2 separate regions of the Homo sapiens genome follow, and region 2 is linked to region 1. The links come from fine-mapping of genetic effects on gene expression. Tissue or cell type: whole blood. Region 1 holds a variant in brackets; the other region holds the start of a gene. All regions are shown on one strand. Distances are between the middles of the regions.

Region 1 (2,684 bases):
GAGAAGCAATGTCCCAAGACAAACAATATGACACCTAATAGATGTGTCTATTAACAGCCAGCCAATGTCCTCAGTCAATAATAATAATAATAATAATTAGCATGCCCAGATACTGTGTTACTGTTTAGCCCTTTATTCCCAGGGCTTTTTGTCTAGGGAAGGGCTCTGTCTCCGTCAGAGCTGGGGGCACATGCAAATCTATTTTCTGAGACTAGCTCTGTGGAGTATAGAGTGAGATTGTGAAATTCAAAACACACCTGGGAAATTCAGACAAGATCTCAATAATAAGGACTGTAATCAAGGAAGAAACCCTTAGTTAAGCAAATAATTTGCCTTGGGAGAAAAAGGCTGAACATGATGTTCTTCACACACAGGGACTTTAGCTGGCATTTCATCTTCAGTCCGAATAGTCCTTGCTGAACAAACCTCAAAAATGAAATATTTACACTATGCCTGCCACCAGTAGAAATGGTCTTCCAATCAGAGAAGCAAGCTGTGGGAGGTGAATGAATGTCTTGAATTCAAAAAAGATACAAAAAAAAAAAAAGAGAGAGAGAGAGAGAGAGAAAGGACAAGTTTAAAATTAAAGAAAAGTGTTATCCAAGGGTAAAGAAATTTGACCTGAGTTCTCCCCAAGTGAGGATAACATGAATGGTAATGAGTCCTGTCTTATCTCTGCAGTTACGGGGATGATTTGCAGACATCAGATTTTGTGATGTTACAGACATGGTTCCCAACTTCGAAAAGCAAGAAAAAAAGTGGATGCAAAATAATATACTTGCATTGGACAAACAATAGCCAGATAACTGTATATCACAGTGAGATATAATGTCAGGTTTAGAATCAGATAAATTGCAAATAACAATGGAGAAACAACTGAACCTTGAGGACTCTCAGCAGATAAACCAGATGAAGTGGATAAAGACTCGCTGTGTGGAGAAGGCAGGGCAGCCCACGCAGAAAGGTGGGAGGCAAGTAGACAGAGGAGGTGGTAGAGCGGTGATGGAGTGTGAGCATCTAGATAAAAAGCTGCAGTCAGCTTCCCAAAAATCAGGGAAAATAATA[G/A]CCGGAAATAATAAAGTAGAATGGTAGCAGTGTCAACTGTGATAAGCAGATAATTTGTTACTCTGGACAGCCTGGGGCCCCTTTCCAGAGACAGGCAGAAGTCCAAGTTCCTAGACTTTCAGCCTGTGCAATCAAGAAGGAAAGAAGTAATGCAAAGGGCAGCAAGAACCACAGAGAGGGGGATTTCAGGATCATGGCAGACGGGAGGGAGGACTAGATTGCAGCTGGGAACAGAGCAGCATGCGGGGGCTTGCACTGTGAATTTTAGCTCCGGATCAACAGCAAGAACAAACCAGCAATCCTGAGAGGACCCACAGACCCTCTGAAGGAAGCACACTGCTACTGCAGGACCCGGGAGACACCTCAAATATACTCTGGGAGGCGGAAAGCGTCGGCAAGTTTTCAAGCCCGTCTAGCCCTCTGCCTGGAAACAGACTCAGGGCTGTTTTGGTGGGGCACCGTGGGAGGTAAGATCAGCCCTTTGGTTTGTGTGGGAGCTGGGTGAGGCCTGTGACTGCCACTTCCCTGACTGCCCTTCCCTGACAACCTGCATGACTCAGCAGAGACAGCCATAATCCTCCTAGGTACACAACTCCAGTGACCTGGGAATCTTACCCTATCTGCCACAGCAGCTGCAGCAAAACCAGCCCAAGGAGAGTCTGAACTCAGACACACCTAGCCTCGCCCCCACCTGATGGTCCTTCCCTACTCACCCAGGTAGTGGAAGACAAAGGGCATATAATCTTGGGAGTTCTAGGGCCCCACCCATTGCCAGTCCCTCTCCACACTGCTACAGCTAATGCTTTCTGGAAAGTGACACCTCCTGTCAGGAGGCCGACCAGCACAAAAATGGAGCATTATTTTTTGCACAGAGTCCAATGCACCCTCTGCCACCTCCACCAGAACAGGTGCTGGTATCCAAGGCTGAGAGACCCACAGACGGTTCATATCACAGGACTCCGTGCAGACAACCTCTGGTACCAGCCTGGAACTGGGTAGACTTGCTGGGTGGCTAGACCCAGAAGAGAGACAACAATCACTTCAGTTCAGCTCACAGGAAGCCACATCCACAGGAAAAGGGGGAGAGTACTAAATCAAGGGAACACCCTGTTAAGGGAGGAGACCACCCCTCATATTGTGTTATGCCCAATTTCTGCCTCCAAAGAAAGAAGTAAAAACTAAAAGGCAGAAATGAAATCCACAGGCAGACAGCCCAGCGCCATGCCCTGGACCTGGTAGTTAAAGATTGACGCCTGACCTAATTGGTTATGTTATCTATAGATTACAGACATTGTATGGAAAAGCATTGTGAAAATCCCTGTCCTGTTCTGTTCCATTCTAATTACCAGTGCATGCAGCCCCCAGTCATGTACCCCCTGCTTGCTCAATCGATCACGACCCTCTCACGCAGACCCCCTTAGAGTTATAAGTCCTTAAAAGGGACAAGAATTGCTCACTTGGGAAGCTCGGTTTTTGGAGTCCTGAGTCTTGCCGAAGCTCCCGGCTAAATAAAGCCCTTCCTTCTTTAACTCCATGTCTGAGGGGTTTTGTCTGTGGATTGTCCTGCTATGCTGTGGGACAAAAGAATCTGAACAACATCCTTCAGCCCTAGACCTTCC
Region 2 (2,684 bases), 200 kb after region 1:
AACTTTTGAAGAATTCGCTGATTTCTGCAGATGTTGGAGTAAAGCCTAGATCCCCCAGTCCTGTGTTGAATGTGCGATTGTTCGAGATGACTGGTTAGTCTAGATTTCCTTTTCTTCTTCCTCTCTCTCTCTCTTTTCTCCGGCTCCCTTTCTTCATCCTTCCCTCCCTTCGTTTCTTCTGCCGCTACTGCTCTAAGAATTTGGTGCAATTGCTTTTAGGTATTCGCAGTGATTTTTGTTGTTTTTTAGATTTATACCACTGAGGACTGTGGCCACGAGAGGGCAGTAGAGGAAGCTTATCAGAATACTTGGACAGGAGTAAACTCGTGTGCGCTCTAATCGCGAGCAGGGACTACGCAGATCCTGCGAACTCGCTGGGGTCCAGCTTGCAGGCCGCTTCCGGAAAGCCGTGTCTAGAGGCTGCGGAGTTACTGAGACTGTGTGGCGAGGAATCAGTGGCCTTGAGGGCACCGAGACATTGTCATCCAGAATCCCGAAACCTCTCACCTTAGGTTATTAAAATAAGTTATCTTATTGCCACCCCTCTGATTACCCTGCCAGAAAGATTCTCTGAATTGGATATAGAAAGCTCTTCTCCCGTCCCCAATGCCCCCATGCAAGTCGGGACTTACCAGATGCCCAGGATCCCTATCAGGGCTGGAAGTTTGAGATTCAATTCAGAGCAAGGTTCATCTTCTCATTGCAATAATAATAATAACAACAACTTCAAGCCTTATTTGACAGCTTGTTGGCCTTTTTCTTTTTTTAATTTACAAGAAGAGGAAATTTGCTCCCACAAATTCCAAGACTCTAGTCTCAACCCTACCAGACAAGCCCCGTTCCTCCCCACTCACCCCTCACTCAAATTACAGATGAAGAGGGAGGTGTGCAGGATGTGTGCGGTGACAGGTGATGCGAATGGGGGGGATTCCCTGTCCCTACTGCCCTCACCCACTCTTCCTGTGTTCTGAGCTCCCCCCTAACCCCAACGCTAGACCTTCTATTCCCCCGGGGGCCAAGCCAGCTGGGCTCGCAAGGCCCGACTCGAATTCCCGGGCCCTGGCAGCATTTTCCTTGCCCCCTTGGCTACTTAAGGTGGCCGATGGGTCCGGGCTGAGCTGGGCGCAGGACAGGCAGCCGAGCGGCCTCCGGATGCCAAACCTGCTTCTCCTTTGTTGACAGCTTGCGGAGGAGGAAGTCCGCGCGGGCGGGGGAGGGGGCAGGGTGCTGGCGGTGGCGGGCGGTGCCAGCAGCGGGCGCGGCCCCAGCCCGGGCGGACGCGGCCGGCGGGGAGGGGGTTAACGCGCGCGGCCTCTATGATAATGAGCTGCATGGTGAAATAGGGAGGCCGGCGCTCAGGGCTCCTCCGCCGCCGCCGCCGCCGCCGCCGCCGCCGCCACCGCGGGAGCCAGAGCTGCCGGGAGGAGCGGCATCCGCGCCAGACTGGAGCGGGAGGGCGGCGGAGGGCAGTTGCTGGGAATTTTTCAGCCGAGAGGGCGAGCGATCCGGAGAGAGACCCCGAGAGCTTGGGAGCGGTAGGGCGTGCGAGCGCCGCAGCCAGCGGAGCAAACCTCGAAATAGATCTGGAAAGCCAGGCTCCCGGAGGAAATGGGACTGTGAACGAACCGGAGAGCAAGAAGGGAAGGAAGCGCCGGGATTGCTGATGTCAGAGGAGCCCGGAAAGTCGCGCTGGAAAAATCTGAAGACAGCCGGGGCTCTGCTTCTTCCTCAGGAGAGACACCGCCGGCCGCCCCCACACGCCCCCTCGGCGCCTCCGGGTGCCCCCTGAGAGCCGGCGACAGCGCCCAGCCGGGCTGCTGCGGGGCGACGGAGGACTGAGGGGCGCGCGGAGCGGAGACCGAGGAGCGACTTCAGGAATACAGATAAGTGTCTGGTGGCTTGACGTGGATTTTAATGAATTTGGACTCCATGTGGATTTGGTCGTCTCCCTGATTCCGAGCTGCGGGCAGGGAGAGGGGCCTCGCGCCGCCCTCAGCAGCCGGCGGCGGCCGAGGTAGACCGAGCGGGGACGGAAGGACAGACCGACGTCGCCGAGCTGGGTAAGCGGCGGCTGGGCCGGGCGCTCGGAGTCGGCAGCGCCCTCCGCCCTCTCCCCACAGGCGCGCACACCCGTGGCGGCTTCTCCCGCGCCCGCCTCTTTGGGGTCCCGGCCCCAGAAGACCCGGCTTGGCCGCGGCGGGCGAGTCCCCGCGTGGGCTCGGCCACTTTCGCGGGCTGGAGCGCGGCGTGCGCGCGATCGCAGGCTCACTGGAGCCGCTGCCTCCCGCCGAGGGCTTCCCGGCCGGCAGCCCGCCGGCTTCCCGAATGCGGGCTGAGGGCGGCAGCAGCGCTCCGCGGCGCGCCTCCACCGCGCACCTGCCGGCGCTCTGCGGCTTTGGGGAGCTCGGGGCGGCAAGGCTGTCCTGAGAGCTGGAGCCCAAAGAGGGCCTCGGTGGCACCAGCGAGACAGCCCAAAGCCACACTGGCCAGCGATCGATTTGGGGGCGTTCACTCCAGTGCCGGGGTCCCTGGTGGCCGCCGGCTCTCCCTTCCGATCGGGGACTGGAGATCAGGGGAATGGGAAAACATCATTTGCGCGGGTTCCATAAGGCTCAGGGAGAGATTCCTAGGCACTGAATGGGTCTAAGTGTTTCATCTCCCGGGGCTCCCTTTGCGGTGTATCG

What was found. PIP is the estimated chance that this variant, and not a neighbour inherited with it, causes the effect.
Region 2: PLXNA2 starts here. The variant in region 1 is fine-mapped to the expression of PLXNA2 in whole blood (TOPMed, PIP above 0.99).

What each region holds. Positions count from the first base shown.
Region 1 is chr1:208,444,879-208,447,562 of GRCh38, reverse strand. No RefSeq gene overlaps it. Among named protein-coding and RNA genes, the nearest start is that of LINC01735, 170 kb to the left of the region's middle. RefSeq lists enhancers at 1,512-2,012, 1,172-2,371. The variant G/A (reference allele first, on the strand shown) is at 1,066.
Region 2 is chr1:208,243,019-208,245,702 of GRCh38, reverse strand. PLXNA2 (plexin A2) reads left to right here and starts at 1,319. Exons shown (of 32, transcript NM_025179.4): 1 at 1,319-2,060. RefSeq lists a silencer at 1,202-1,261 and enhancers at 1,780-2,279, 2,280-2,684.